Regions from separate parts of the Homo sapiens genome. Here regions 1 and 3 are each linked to region 2. The links come from fine-mapping of genetic effects on gene expression. A gene starts in region 2. Each other region holds a variant in brackets. All regions are shown on one strand. Distances are from middle to middle. Region 1 has its middle 34 kb from the start of PDGFB. Region 2 holds the start of PDGFB (platelet derived growth factor subunit B). Region 3 has its middle 22 kb from the start of CBX7.

Evidence for each region. PIP is the estimated chance that this variant, and not a neighbour inherited with it, causes the effect.
Region 1: its variant is fine-mapped to the expression of PDGFB in whole blood (TOPMed, PIP above 0.99).
Region 3: its variant is fine-mapped to the expression of PDGFB in whole blood (TOPMed, PIP 0.96).

Annotation. Positions count from the first base shown.
Region 1 is chr22:39,208,847-39,214,063 of GRCh38, reverse strand. No RefSeq gene overlaps it. Among named protein-coding and RNA genes, the nearest start is that of PDGFB, 34 kb to the left of the region's middle. RefSeq lists enhancers at 1-382, 383-1,002, 4,185-4,685. The variant C/T (reference allele first, on the strand shown) is at 2,497.
Region 2 is chr22:39,241,810-39,247,026 of GRCh38, reverse strand. PDGFB (platelet derived growth factor subunit B) reads left to right here and starts at 2,045. Exons shown (of 7, transcript NM_002608.4): 1 at 2,045-3,126. The coding sequence starts at 3,064. RefSeq lists a silencer at 3,911-3,990.
Region 3 is chr22:39,172,128-39,177,344 of GRCh38, reverse strand. No RefSeq gene overlaps it. Among named protein-coding and RNA genes, the nearest start is that of CBX7, 22 kb to the right of the region's middle. RefSeq lists enhancers at 867-1,161, 3,160-3,829, 4,842-5,217. The variant C/T (reference allele first, on the strand shown) is at 3,205.

The DNA of each region.
Region 1 (5,217 bases), 33 kb after region 2:
GAACATGTCTTGTGGGGACAGGACTAAGGGTGAGACACCTGCCCCAGGTGCAAAGGTTAAAGGGGCACCAAAAATTCTCAGTGATCAAAATAAGTCATCATTTCATGCAATATGTATATATTTTTTGAGGCAGAGTCGTGCTCTGTCACCCAAGCTGGAGTGCAGTAGCGTGATCTCAGCTCACTGCAACCTTCGCCTCCTGGGTTCAAGTGATTCTTGTGCTTCAGCTGCCTGCGTAGCTGGGACCACAGGCACATGCCACCACACCTGGCTAATTTTTGTATTTTTAGGACAGACAGGGTTTTGCCATGTTGGCCAGGCTGGTCTCAAACTCCTGACCTCAATGATCTGCCTGCTTCAGCCCCCTGAAGTGCTGGAATTACAGGCGTGAGCCACCACGCTCAGCCTCATGCAGTATTTTAAGAAATCAAAATTAATGCAAACAAGTTCACCACGAGCCAGTCCGGGAGTGGTGGCTCATGCCTGTAATCCCAGCACTTTGGGAGGCCGAGGTGGGCAGATACTTGAGGTCAGGAATTTGAGACCAGTCTGGCCAACATGGTGAAACCCCGTCTCTACTAAAAACACAAAAATTAGCCAGACATGGTGGCGGGCGCTTGTAATCCCAGCTACTTGAGAGGCTGAGGCAGGAGAATCGCTTGAACCTGGGAGGCGGAGGTTGTAGTGAGCTAAGATTGCACCACTGCACTCAAGCCTGGGTGAGCGAGACTCCAACTCAAAAAAAAAAAAAAAAAAAAAAAAAAGAAAGAAAGAAAAAAAATTTACCATGAGCCAAAATTTCAAAATTTCACTTCAAGACAGGAGTTGAAACGAGCACTTACACAATGCCTCGCTCGCCTCACTCTAATCTTGGCTTTGTCAGATCCTGTCTTGTTTTAAAATGTTGTGCTCCGGGTGTGTGCCTGGCTTGCCTCACCGCAGCCCGGGCCCTGCTGACCCAGCTCCATGTTCACTGTCCTTTCTTCTTCCTTCTGTGGCCTTGGTTTTGGGTCCTCACTCTCTTTTGACCCAACCATTGAGAAACTCCTCTGGGGTTCCTTCTCCTCACCCCGGACTATCCCACCATGAGCCACGTCACTCTCTGCTGCCCCCTTAGGCTTCTTGACACAGAGTAGTCAAGCCACTCCCTTGCTCATAACCTTCTATGACTTCTGACCCCAGGCGAGGCTCACACTCACCAACAAGGCATGCAGAACCCTCTGTGGTCAGCCCAGGGAGGCTTCTTCCTCCCAAGCCTCCCCGCCTGTCACCTGCCCTCCTCCTCCATATCCAGGCCGTGCCTTTCTCCACATCTGTACTTCACTGACTATCTTCAAAGTCAACCTCAAATTCACTAGAAAACCGCCCCTGGAGGAATGTAAAATGGTATAGCCACTGTGGAAAACAGCAGGGTGGTTCCCCAGAAACATTCACACAGAATTACGATATGACCCAGCAATCCCACTTCTGGGTAGATACCCCAAAGAACTTAAAACAGGGTCTCGAAGAAATATTTGCACACCCAGGTTCACAGTGGAATGATTCACAATAGCCAAAAGGTGGAAGCATGGCCGGGCACGGTGGTTCACGCCTGTGCTCCCAGCACTTTGGGAGGTTGAGGCAGGCGGATCACCTGAGGTCAGGAGTTCGAGAGTTGGCCAGCCAACTCTCTGTTGTTCAGCCTGGCCAACAGAGTGAAACCCTGTCTCCACTAAAAATACAAAAATTAGCCGGGCGTGGTGGCGGCCACCTGTAATTCCAGCTACTCGACAGGCTGAGGCAGGAGAACCACTTGAACTTGGGAGGTGGAGGTTGCAGCGAGCCAAGATCGCGCCACTGCACTCCAGCCTGGGTGACAGAGCGATATTCCATTTTGGTATTGCTAGAAAGAAATACCAGAGGCTGGGCAATTTATAAAGATGAGGTTTCATTGGCTCACAGTTCTGCAGGCTGTACCAGCATGGCGCCAGTGTCTGCTCCTGGTGAGGCCTTACGGACGTTACAATAACGGCGGAAGGCAAAGGCGGAGCAGGCATGTCGCATGGTGAGAGCAGAAGCACGAGAGAGTGGGGGGCAGGGGTGCCACAGACTTTTTTTTTTTTTTTTTTTTTTTTGAGACGGAGTCTCGCTCTGTCGCCCAGGCCGGACTGCGGACTGCAGTGGCGCAATCTTGGCTCACTGCAAGCTCCGCTTCCCGGGTTCACGCCATTCTCCTGCCTCAGCCTCCCGAGTAGCTGGGACTACAGGCGCCCGCCACCGCGCCCGGCTAATTTTTTGTATTTTTAGTAGAGACGGGTTTCACCTTGTTAGCCAGGATGGTCTCGATCTCCTGACCTCGTGATCCACCCGCCTCGGCCTCCCAAAGTGCTGGGATTACAGGCGTGAGCCACCGCGCCCGGCCGCCACAGACTTTTTTAAAATTTTTTTTTCTTTTGAGAAGGAGGCTTGCTCTGTTGCCCAGTCTTGCTGTGTCGCCCAGGCTGGAGTGCAGTGGCG[C/T]GATCTCGGCTCACTGTAATCTCCACCTCCTGGGTTCACACCATTCTCCTGCCTCAGCCTCCCTAGTAGCTGGGACTACAGGCGCCTGCCACTGTGTCCGGCTACTTTCTTGTGTATTTTTAGTAGAGACAGGGTTTCACCATGTTGGCCAGGCAGGTCTCGAACTCCTGACCTCAAGTGATCCGCCTGCCTCGGCCTCCCAAAGTGCTGGGATTAAAGGCATGAGCCACCACACCCAGCCTACATTTCCACATGATTTTAGAGGGAACAAACATCCAAACTATATCAACGTACAATGGAATATTATTTAACCTTCAAAAGGAAGGAAATCCTGGGATATGCTGCAACATGGAAGAACCTTAAGGACATTCTGCTAAGTGAAAGAAGCCATTCACAAAAGTGCCAGTGCTGTATGATTCCATCATATGATATAATTAGATTAGTCAAAATTATAGAGACAAAAAGTAGAATGGTGGTTGCCAGAGGCTGGGAGGGGGGATTGCGGAGTTAGCGTTTAATGGATACAGAGTTTCAGTTTTACAAAATGAAAATAGTTCTGGAGACAATGGGGGCGATGGTCACGCAACATTATGAATGTACTTAATACTACGAACTGTACACTTAAAACAGTTACAATGGCACATTTTTTTTTTTTTTTAGACAGAGTCTCCCTCTGTCGCCCAGGCTGGAGTGCAGTGGCCCAATCTCGACTCACTGTAACCTCCATCTCCCGGGTTCAAGCAATATTTCTGCCTCAGCCTCCCGAGTAGCTGGGACTACAGGCACACGCCACCACCCGTCTAATTTTTGTATTTTTCATAGAGACAAGGTTTCACCATATTGGCTAGGCTGGTCTCGAACTCCTGACCTTGTGATCTGCCTGCCTCAGCCTCCCAAAGTGCTGGGATTACAGGCATGAGTCACTGCACCTGGCTTACAATGGTAAATTTTTTGTTATGTGTATTTTAACACAGTAAGTGCAGGCGCAGTGGCTCACGTCTGTAATCCCTGCATTTTGGGAGGCCGAGGCAGGCAGATCACTTGAGTTCAGGAGTTCAAGACCAGCCAGGGAAACGTGGCGAAACCCTGTCTCTACTAAAAATACAAAAATGAGCCGGGCATGGTGGTGGGCACCTGTAGTCCCAGCTACTCGGGAGGCTGAGGCAGGAGAACTGCTTGAACCTGGAAGGTGGAGGTTGCAGTGAGCCGAGATCATGTCACTGCACTCCAGCCTGGGCAATAGAGTGAGACGCTATCTCAAACAAACAAACAAACAAAAATACAATAAAAAGTTGGGGAAAGAAATAAGAAAAAAAAAAACCTGCTCCTGCAGCTCTCTGGCCAGAAGTGAGGTTTTTCTTCTCTGAATGCATTCAAACATTCTACCCAAGATCTCCTTGAATTAGGAAGGCACTGGGTGCCAAAGTCTGTCTTTGAGGTCAGGATCTGCGCCTGTGCCTCCTAAGGCCTGCCTTGGTGCCTGGGGCCTGCAGACGCTGGACGGATGAAGGAACCAATGGCAGGGGCTCAGCCCATAGCTCTGGGCAAAGCTCTCCAGTGCACAGCGGCCACATGGAGCTCTGCATGGTGCAGTCACCTGTCAGTACCTGGGCACTCAAGTACCCTGACCTGCACACTCAGAGCCAAGAGACGGCAGGTGCAGGTGAGGCGGATGTAACTGACACCCGGCAGCAGCCCCGTGCATTTGAGGCCTCTGGTGACCTGCAGGCGGCAGAGTGGTGAGGAACCCAGGTTTGGGTCTAGGTGCCAGCTCTGCTGTTTGCTAGCTTTGTCTCCTTGTCTGCTAAATTGGCAGAGAATCGTCTCAGCTTTATGAGATTGTGTGAGGATCAAATGGGACTATGCCTGGGAACTGCTTCCTGTGGCAATTTTTGGGAGGGCAGACCCTGCCCAGCAGCCATCCCTCCTTATTTCTCTTGCTAAACAGAGCCCTGGTCTGCTTATGGAACCAGCTGAAATGCTGCGATCTCAGTGCCAGAGGCTGGTCTCATCAGTCCTGGGCATCTGATTCTCCTGGACCGATGGTGGGTCTGAGTGTGGCCATATAACGGCACTCTGGCTAATGAGACATGAGAGGAAGTCTGTGGGGTGTGCAGGGAGGGTGACAGTGGGGACTCATCCTCATCAGAAGACAGAGACTTCCAGGGAGACTGCCCTTTCCTTGTTTCCCTTCTTCCTGCCTTGAATGCAGATGTGACAGTTGGCGGGTCAGCAGCCATTCTGTAGTAATGAGATGATAAGGATGACAAAGAGATTGCAGGAAATCCAGCCCTGCCATCATCAAGGCAAGCGTTACTGCCTCCTGATTTCTTGTTATGGAAGAAAGATTAACGCCTATTTTTCTTCCCTAAACCACTATAAATTGGATTTTTCTTTGACCTGACACCAAACACATTCCTATAGAATTCACTGCCACACAGCCGAGTAAATGTTTGCTTTTACCTGGCTTTTACAACTCTCTGAGCTTCCCACCATCTAGAAGATGAAAGTAGGGTGGGTGAGGTGGCTCACGCCTGTAATCCCAGCACTTTGGGAGGCTGAGGCAGGTGGATCATTTGAGACCAGGAGTTCGAGACCAGCCTGGCCAACATGGTGAAACCCCGTCTCTACTAAAAATACAAAAATTAGCCAGGCATGGTGGCACACGCTTGTAATCCCAGCTACTCAGGAGGCTGAAGCAGGAGAATCACTTGAACCCGG
Region 2 (5,217 bases):
ATTTATAGAAGACACAGAAGGTCAAGGTCAAATGACCCAGCTGTCCGGTGGAAGAGGGTTTTTATCTCTGAGTCGTTAGACTTCAAATCTAGTGTTTGGGGGTTATCTCCTCGTCCCGCTGCCCCATCTCCCTTGTCACCCTGTCTCCTAATTTATCTGTTTATACATCTGGTTGTCCTTCTCAATGGGGCTCTTCAAAGGCAGGGGCCTGCATTAGGCTGGTTCACACCTGTCTCCCCAGTGCCTGGAGCAGTGCGGGGCCACCAGTGAACTTGAAGGCTGCATGGAAGGTTCCAGGCGCTTGCTTCCTGCTAAGGTGTTTTGCTGAGCGCCTCCACATGGAGGACCTCATGGGAGCCTCCAGACCACTCCAGGAGCAGGGTAAAAATTCTCTACAACTGCACTGAGGTACAACAAACTGCACACATTTTGTTGTGATGTACGTATACACCCATAAGCCCATCACCACAATCAAAAATGACAAACATTTCCATCACCACTAAAATTTTGCCATGCCTCTCTGTTCTCTCTCACTCCTTCCCATTATAGATTTATTTTTATTTCTTTAGAGATAGGGTCTTGCTCTGTTGCCCAGGCTGGAGTGCAGTGGCACAGTCACAACTCACTGCAGCCTCAAACTCCTGGGCTCAAAACGATCCACAGTCTCCTGAGTAGCTGGGACTACAGGAGCTTGTTACCACACCCAGCTCCAGTTTATAAATTCATCTCCAGTTTATAAAGGAGGAAACCGAGGTACTGAGAGGTTAAAAAACCTTCCTGCAGACACTTGTCCAGCAAGTGGCCACTCCAGGATTTGGACCAAGGTGATGTGTCTTCAGGCTGTGTCTCTGCCACTGTGCCACGCTGCTGGGTGGTAGGCAGCAGTGGGTGGGTGCCTGCAGTGGTCTGTAAAGACCACCTGAGATGTCCTTCCTCCTCTGTTCCACCCTGTCCAGGTCCAAGAAGACAGTCTATGAAGAGAGAGCAGGTGTGACTCTCTCAGTGTGCTCCTCTGTGAGAAGCAGGCTGACATCCCAAAGGGAAGGGCGGATAACAGAGACAGTGCAAGCGGAGGAGATGAGGGTGCCTCAAAGCCGGGAGGCTGGGTGATGCAGGAGCCTGCGTGTCCCGAGGGGGGTGCTGGGCCCAGTGTGAGTACGTGTGACTGTGACTGAGACAGTGTGACTGCTGAAGGCAGGGACACAGCAGCTCCCTGACTGGGGGCAGAAGGCGTTAACTGTGTGAAGGCTGGTTGTGGGTGGGTGGGCTCTGGGCCTCGAACCCGGGGGCTGAGGGAGATAGTAAACAGCAGGGTGACTGACGGGAAGATCATGTTGGTAGCCCTGCGAAGATGCTGCAGGGCTGTGGGGGTTTGTGTGACTTTGCAGTTCAACAAATTCAAATTCAGCCAACGCTGGCAGGGCCTGTTGTGCCAGGCAACCAGCTAGGAGGAGGAGACTCGGACCCAGCTTGCAGCTGAAGGGCGCTGGCTGCCGGGTTCTGTGGGTTCACCTTGCGGTGTCTTCCCTTGCTAACACTGAGTCCTTACAATAGCCCCATCTCCAGGTTGAGGCTAGATGGAGGGGACAGAGGGAAGTGACTTGCCCAAGGTGACCCAAGCTCCCGAGTGCCAGGGCAGGATCTGAATTCAGGCTCTCAGACTGCAGAGCCTGAGTCCCTCCCTGCCATGCCTGTGCCAGGGTGGAAATGTCTGGTCCTGGAGGGGAGCGTGGACTCCTGGCCTTGGCTCTGGAGACATCCCCCTAGACCACGTGGGCTCCTAACCTGTCCATGGTCACTGTGCTGAGGGGCGGGACGGTGGGTCACCCCTAGTTCTTTTTTCCCCAGGGCCAGATTCATGGACTGAAGGGTTGCTCGGCTCTCAGAGACCCCCTAAGCGCCCCGCCCTGGCCCCAAGCCCTCCCCCAGCTCCCGCGTCCCCCCCCTCCTGGCGCTGACTCCGGGCCAGAAGAGGAAAGGCTGTCTCCACCCACCTCTCGCACTCTCCCTTCTCCTTTATAAAGGCCGGAACAGCTGAAAGGGTGGCAACTTCTCCTCCTGCAGCCGGGAGCGGCCTGCCTGCCTCCCTGCGCACCCGCAGCCTCCCCCGCTGCCTCCCTAGGGCTCCCCTCCGGCCGCCAGCGCCCATTTTTCATTCCCTAGATAGAGATACTTTGCGCGCACACACATACATACGCGCGCAAAAAGGAAAAAAAAAAAAAAAAGCCCACCCTCCAGCCTCGCTGCAAAGAGAAAACCGGAGCAGCCGCAGCTCGCAGCTCGCAGCTCGCAGCCCGCAGCCCGCAGAGGACGCCCAGAGCGGCGAGCGGGCGGGCAGACGGACCGACGGACTCGCGCCGCGTCCACCTGTCGGCCGGGCCCAGCCGAGCGCGCAGCGGGCACGCCGCGCGCGCGGAGCAGCCGTGCCCGCCGCCCGGGCCCCGCGCCAGGGCGCACACGCTCCCGCCCCCCTACCCGGCCCGGGCGGGAGTTTGCACCTCTCCCTGCCCGGGTGCTCGAGCTGCCGTTGCAAAGCCAACTTTGGAAAAAGTTTTTTGGGGGAGACTTGGGCCTTGAGGTGCCCAGCTCCGCGCTTTCCGATTTTGGGGGCCTTTCCAGAAAATGTTGCAAAAAAGCTAAGCCGGCGGGCAGAGGAAAACGCCTGTAGCCGGCGAGTGAAGACGAACCATCGACTGCCGTGTTCCTTTTCCTCTTGGAGGTTGGAGTCCCCTGGGCGCCCCCACACGGCTAGACGCCTCGGCTGGTTCGCGACGCAGCCCCCCGGCCGTGGATGCTCACTCGGGCTCGGGATCCGCCCAGGTAGCGGCCTCGGACCCAGGTCCTGCGCCCAGGTCCTCCCCTGCCCCCCAGCGACGGAGCCGGGGCCGGGGGCGGCGGCGCCCGGGGGCCATGCGGGTGAGCCGCGGCTGCAGAGGCCTGAGCGCCTGATCGCCGCGGACCCGAGCCGAGCCCACCCCCCTCCCCAGCCCCCCACCCTGGCCGCGGGGGCGGCGCGCTCGATCTACGCGTCCGGGGCCCCGCGGGGCCGGGCCCGGAGTCGGCATGAATCGCTGCTGGGCGCTCTTCCTGTCTCTCTGCTGCTACCTGCGTCTGGTCAGCGCCGAGGTGAGTTGCCACGGCGGCTGGGGCTGGTTCTTCATTCATTACCTTCGCCCCCCCCTTCTGACCGCCCCCTCCTCTCCCTGCAGTGAACTTTGGACCCTTGCAGCCCGCGAGCCTGACGCCGGGCGCTGGGTGACCTCTTCGGGCTGGGAGCGAGGTCCGGGGGTGACAGGCTCTAAGGGAAGGCAACAGCGGTGGCTTTCTTTCCAACCGGCGGGCGAATCTGGCTCCCTAAGCCGTTCCGTGTCGGGGGAGGGTGTGTGTGGCCCTGTCCCCCACCCTTTGGGAACCCGAGAACAAGCCCCTTCCCGGCCGGGGGAGAGGGGGTGGGGTGGTGCCCAGGGTGCAGAAGGCAGCGCGTCCTCCCGAGCCCACTTCGGCGCCAGCCTCGGCTTAGGCTCTGTCCTGCCATCGGCTTGCCCAGGAGGTGCAAGCTTGCGCACCGGTGCCATCCACGCCGACCTTTGACGGGGCTCGGGTCCCACCCTGGCTCCCGGTCGGGGTCCGGGTGGACGCCCTCCGGCACGCGCAGGGCATGCCCGGCCCCAGAGCACGGTCTGGAAGCAGCTTGTGTCTCGGGCGCGGGGTTTGGGGTGGGAGTAACAGGGAGAGAGAGAGAGAGAGAGAGAAAGAGAGAGAGAGAGAGAGAGACGGAGAGAGAGACGGAGAGAGAGAGGGAGAGAAAGATAGAGACGCAGGTAGGTTTCGGGCACTCGGGTAGGGGGAGGACTAGGGGCTCTGAAGGAATCCAGCCCCCGGGGCGCTGTGTGCCTGAGGCCTTGCCGTACCTGTGCCCGCGCCCTGCAGGAGGAAGCACCTCTCTCCCCCGCATGCAGGGTGCGGAGCGCGCCGCCTGCAAAAGCCTAGCTGCACGGGAGATGGGGTATAAAAACATCTGAGGGAGCGCTGGGGTCGGAGCCGTCCCCACCCCTCCCAGCCTCACGTAGCCGTGAGTTGGCAAGTCTACCCGGAATCCAGGTGGGAAAGGGGGCGGGGCAGGACGACGCGCGCGGTGGAGGGGAGGAGAGGGCAGCCGGGAGCGCGGCGTGACTGGGTACCGTCCCACCTCCGCCCGGCTGCGGCCGGGAGTCCGCACCTCGCCCGCACCTCGCCGGCTCCCGGGGAGGGTCGGCCCCTGCGGCCTCCAGCCAGGCGCAGGAAGGAGGCAGCGGCGGCGAAGGGGTTAAGGCGGAGGGCTCGGAGGCCGCGGCCCGGCCTTGGGCTGCCGCCAGCGCAGGTTGTTTTGACCACGGAGGAGCCGTCGCCGTCTCCTTTTGTTCTCGGGGCTCCTCGAGGGCCGCAGGCCGCCCGCCCGGGGGCCCCGCCCTTCCGCGGCCGCCCCCCGCGGCCCGCACCCGGGAGGGAGGACGCGGGGCTCGGCCGGGCCGCCTTCAGGCCCCTCCCGACGCCCCCTCTCCGCCTCTCCCGCAGCCCCCCGGGCCGCGGCCAGCTGTTGGGGAGGGGGTGGCCGGCCGGCCCCAGCTGCCGCCTCGCCTCGCCGTGGGACCTGGGGGCTGGGCCCGGTGCCAGGGCGTCCTGGGAACGGCGGCGCCCCGTGGCTGCTCTCCGCAGCCCACCCCGCCCGGGCCCCCGACTCGCTCACTCACCCCACGCATGCACACTCCTGGCCGGAGGCGATGCTGCGCTCCGGCGGGCGGGCGCGCAGAGCGACGGGCACGCACTACCGCGGCCAGGTCGCGCGCCCGCCTCTGCCACGCCCGTGCACACGCGGGACACACGCGCGCGCACCGCACACAAACGCACGCACGGCCCCTGCACGCGCGGCCTGAGCACACGTGCGCGCACACCCACGCACGTACACAGGCACGCACGGGCCCCCGTGCACCCAGCGCCTGGTGCTCGCCCCCGCGCAACAGGTGGGCCCTCCGTGGGCCCTGGCACCTCACCACCTCTGTAGCGGCCCCATTTCCTTCCTGGCGTCCTGTGAGGGAGGGAGAACCTCCCATCAGCACCACAGCACCTACTTTTTTTTTTGCCTCGTCAGCCCGACGCCCCTCAAACCTTACCCATCTGTGACTCCTTTTTTTCAACCACCTCCGCGTGGTGGAAAATGGTGGTGATGTGACTCTGAGG
Region 3 (5,217 bases), 70 kb after region 2:
GCATCCATCCCACTGCAGCCCCTCCTGCCTGTCCCCTCCCGGCCCTGGAAGACCCCTCCAGGCTCCCCAAGGGCAGAGGGCAGCATGGGGAGCGGGCTTGGTCTCCTGCAGAGTGGAGGTCTCTGAAGCCTCCAGCTCCCAGCTTCTCCCCAGACTGCTCTGGGCCTGAAACTAGGGGGCGTTTGCAGAAAAACATGGAAAAGAATTACCCTAGTTTCTGGTGGTTTTGCAGAACAGCAAGTCCCCGGATTCCCGGGTCAGCTTGACCGAGCTAGCTGTGGGATCTTGGACAAGGACCCCTTTCCTCCTAGGACCCCAAAGGCACTCCCAGGGTGAGGGCTCCAGAGCCTGACCGCCCCCAGGCCCTCCCCTCTGAATGTTCGAATCCTGCATACCATGGCTGCGTGGCGGTGGGAACCACTATATCCCACCAGGCCCGGCCCAGTGCGGAGAAGGGATGGGCTCCTGCCCTTAGCCAGAGGCACAGGCTCTGCAGAGAGGCAGTGATGATGCCATAGAGCGTGACAAGGGCAGCAATGCTGGGGTTGCCCAAGGAAGGGATCAAAGTCTCCCATCTTGCAGACAGAGATACTGAGTCCCAGAGAGGGGAAGTGGCTGTCTGGGCACTGGAGACTAGAACCCAGGAGTCTTCTACCTCTCCCCTCTTCCGGCTCTGACCCCGAGAGCTTCCCTGGGGAACGGTAGGTGGGCTAGGGAGCCCCATAAGGTAGAACTGAAAGCAGAAACTCCTCCCCTGTTAACTGACTCCTCCCAGAGCCCCCGAATCTCTGCTTCCAGGGTTGGGGTTCATTTGCTTCTGCGATAGTCTGGGATGGGTGGGACTGGCACAAGATGGGTCCTCTATCACCCCAAGTCCAAGGGGCGCCCCAAGCGGGGTGCTGCTGTGCCGTGTCGGGCCAGCATGGCAGTAGGCCAGGGCCCCCGGCAGCGCCGAGGCAGCTGGACAGGGCGGCCGCCAAGAATGCCAGGAATGCGGAGCCGCCGTGTCCTTCCCGCTCCTCTTCCTCCCCCCCGCCAGCCCAGAACAGGATATTCCCTGTCCAGGGAAACCCAAGTCCGGTCCCTTTATGGGAAAACCATGGGGCATCTGGTGGGCACTGTTCCTGCACTGGGACGGGTGTTCAGCATAGGGGAGCCCTCAGAGACGGGGGCATTGGGTGCTGCTGCGGAGGATGCAGGGGTCTGTGGGGGCTGGCTCTGTGTGGGTTCAGCACATATGAGGGCCTACTATGCGCTAAGGGCTTCATGTGAATTAACTCACTCAGTCTCACATCAACCCTGGGAGCTTCTGCTTTGCAGATCAGGAAACTGAGGCTCACAGAGGCTAAGGAGCTTGACCGAAGGCCCTAGCTAGCAAGCCGCAAAGCCAGTCAGACTCTGATACCCAGACTCTCAGCCATAGGCCAGGTGGCCCCAACTCAACTGTGGCCATGGGGGCATGGCCTGTGCCCTCACATGGCACCTGTGGGGGAAGGGCACGTTGTTCCCAGCTGGTCAGTTTCAAAGGTGGCAAAGGTTTGTCTTAGAGATGCAGAGTCCGGCCCTGCCCCCGGGGCTGTTCTTGCAGATCTCAGCACCATGGAATCCCAGAGTTTGATCAGGATACAGACCATTGGCACCAGGAGGGGCTCCTCTGGACCCTCCCTAATGAGCAGGGGAGGCCGTCACTCTGGAGGTTCAGGGATAAGAGGTGGGGCTCTGAGAAAGCTGAAGGGGGGACACAGGGTAGGGGAGAGAGCGGGGCTAGCTGCACCAACTCCAGCCCTGGGATCCTAGAGGTGCCGCGCCCCGCCCTGGGCTGCACGCCCATCACCTCCCTTCGAGGCCAGCCCACCTCGGCCCTTTGGTTTGGCTACAGGTCTGGGGCATTACCCTAGCAGGGTCAGGTGCAGGCAGAGACGTGGAGACCCTAGCCTTGGATCAGGCCTTGGGCGGGTGGAGAACGGAGAAAATGCAGAGGCACGGGCTGTGCTGCCACCCTCGCAACCCCCGAAACCAGCCCAAAGTGATTGGAGACCAAGGGACCATCTGCACGAGAAATTCTCCCCATTTAGAAATAGGGGAAACTGAGGCACAGGGAGGCCATGTGGCTTGCTCAGAGTCATAGAGCTGTCACGCTGTCACCTAGTGGAGATGTGATTGGAATCCTGGGCTTTCTGTCTCTGGCCCCCACCTGGGGGCCCCTCACGGTTCCTCTCTTCTCCCCTGCTTCCCTAGCCCCCCAAGTCTGGCTGGTTCTATTCCAGTGTGTTGTCCTGTAAGGGCTTCGGGTCCCCCGGGGGGCCAGGGTCAGGTAAACAGGATCCCAGCCGCATTCCCTGACCTTGTTTACCTCCCAAAAGAATGTGAGGGCATTCTTCCCCTTCCCGGGCTGTGAGTCAGCTCCCAGCAATGCGCCGGCTGGCTGCTGGCTGCCCTTCCCCCATGCAACCCCCTCCAGACCCCTGCCCCTTGCCTTCTCACCCGGTGACGTCACTGATGTCACCCCTCCCCATACCCCCATGGAGCCCACCAGGCCTCCAGTTGCCATGGCGACGGCTCACAACAGGAAGCACAGCCCCATCGAGGCCTGCGCTGGGGCAGAAACACAGGAAGCCGCGCTAAGCACTGAGCAGCATTGTCAGCCCCGTAAAAAACAAAACAGGACAAAAAGATTTAATGAGAACAATCAGCCCAAAGAAAAAGGAAAAAAAAAAAAGACCAAAAAAACAAACAAAGCCAAACAGCCTGAAGGCAGGGGGCTGGCAGGGCTCCAAGGACCCCACGTTTTCCCTCCCAACACAATGTAGGCTCAATAATACTTCCTTCTCAGAAGGAGGCTCCCGGGGGTGAGCAGCGGCTGCAGCAGCTCCAAAACTACCCTTGGCTACCCTTGGTAACCCCAACGCAGGTCCAGCTCTATGCCCTCTACTGAAGGCTTTGGGGGACTGGATAGGCTAGTCCTGCCCCCACCTCCCCAAGTATTACCCCTCCTAAGTCCTGCTAGGGGACGTATTCAGTTCAGTGGAAGAAAGAGCACAGGCTCCTGGGTCACCCAGATGGAAAATCTACTCCTGGCCCAGCCGCTGCCTGATGATTGTGAGATTCTGTGTGGGTGGCGATCTCTCTTGCACCTCACTTTCCTCATTGGTTTTGCACCTCACTTTCCTCATTGGTTTTGTAACCATCACTGTCATCAGCATC[C/T]GCCTTCACACCTCACAGAGGTGTTGCAAAGCTCAGGCGAGCTGGCACATCAACTAGCACCCAGTAGGTGCTCAATGCGTGCAGAAGGAACTCACAGAGGATGAATGAATGGGGCAGAAATTCCGTGGAGGCAGCTAGCTCAGCTCTGAACTAACTATCAGAGATGGACAAGATGCCCCAGGGGGTATGGGGCTCCCCATCGCTAGACGGGGCAGGCTTGTGAAGGCTTGGTGGGACCTTGTGGAAGGGACTGAGCCCTGGAACAGGGAGGGTGTAGGGGAGGAGCAAAGCTCCCTCCCTCCAGCAGAAGGCTCTGGCCCAGTGGTCCTGTCTGGATAATCCCATTTAGTCTGGTATCTGGTTGATGCCTGCACCGTGACTATGGGAAGAGACCCCACAGTGTCAGTGGGGCAGTTAGTGGTGGGGGGACCCCTGGCTCTTTCTCCATTGCCTGGAGAGAGTAGGGTCCCAGGGCAGAGGAGGCCACCATTCTAGTCCATTTAGGAATGTGACGGATAAGAATGATCCCCGTGGGACAGTGGCAGAGCTGGACTCTGATCACACGGGCAGGTCAGGCCATCCCCTGTCATGTGGATCGGTCCAGCACCTGCTGTTAGCCCAGTGGTTCCTGCCAATGATTGGTGATAGAGCTGGCCTTGCAGGGCCCGGTTGGGGAGTGGGGAACGGGATGCTTAGGCGAGGAGGCTGACTGAGGTTCAGAGCCTGGCTCCAGGTGGTCAGAGAGGCCACCTGGGGGAAATGGGCCAGAAAATGCGGACGGGACTTTGTTGGGTAAGGACAAAAATGGTAGCTGTTCCACTCAAGGGCATAGCAGGAGCACAGGCGTGGCAGTGAGAAAGCCCAGGGTGTTCTGGCCACGGGACCCAGATCTGCACACCTGTAGTCAAAGTTGGTGTCACAAGATAGAGAGATCCCATGGAAAAGAGGCTGGAACCAGATCACAGAGGGTCTTCAGTGTCACTGCCAGGAGTCGGGAGCTGACACCCTAGGCACCGGGGAACTGCTGGGGGCTTTTGACCAGGGTAGTGATATGTGCAGCCGGGTAATTTAGGGTGACGCCTCCGTGTGGATTAGGAGTGGAGGATGCACCAGGAAACAGCATAGGATGGGAGGTCAGAATCTGGGGTCTGCTGAATTGGCTTCTTTTCTTTTGAACTTAATAATAATGAGACATAATAGGTGTTCAATCAGGCCGGGCACAGTGGCTCACGCTTGTAATCGCAGCACTTTGGGAGGCCGAAGCAGGCAGATCACCTGAGGTCAGGAGTTTGAGACCAGCCTGACCAAGGTGGTGAAACCCCATCTCTAGTTAAAAAAAAAAAAAAAAAAGTACAAAATTAGCCAGGCGTGGTAGCACACGCCTGTAATCCCAGCTACTTGGGAGGCTGAGGCAAGAGAATTGCTTGGACTCAGGAGGCGGAGTTTGCAGTGAGCTGAGGTCACACCGCTGCACTCCAGCCTGGGCAACAAGAGTGAAACTCCATCTGAAAAAAAAAAAAAAAAAGGTGTTCAATCAATATTTATAGAATGAATGAATGGCAACCACCTTATACTGTGATATTTATTTTGCATACGTTGTCTTGTCAATTCTCACTACAAGCCTAAAAAATAGGCCTCATTCTTCCTGGTTTTACAAATGAGAAAATGGAGGTTCAGAGAGGTTGAGGGACCTGCTCCAGGCTGCACAGCATGCTGTGGTGGAGCAAGATTCCAGCACAGCTGAACCCACCCACCATCTCCCACTGCAGAGTCCACCCCAGCGCTGGGCTCTGTGCTGAACCCACCCACCATCTCCCACTGCAGAGTCCACCCCAGCGCTGGGCTCTGTGCTGAACCCATCCACCATCTCCCACTGCAGAGTCCACCCCAGTGCGGGGCTCTGTGCCAGGCCTGGGGGACACACAGATAACTGAACTCCAACCATGTGCCTGAGTAGCCCCCAGATTAGAGGCCTCAGTTTTCCCAGCTGTGGACTGAGGGCTGGTGGAGGAG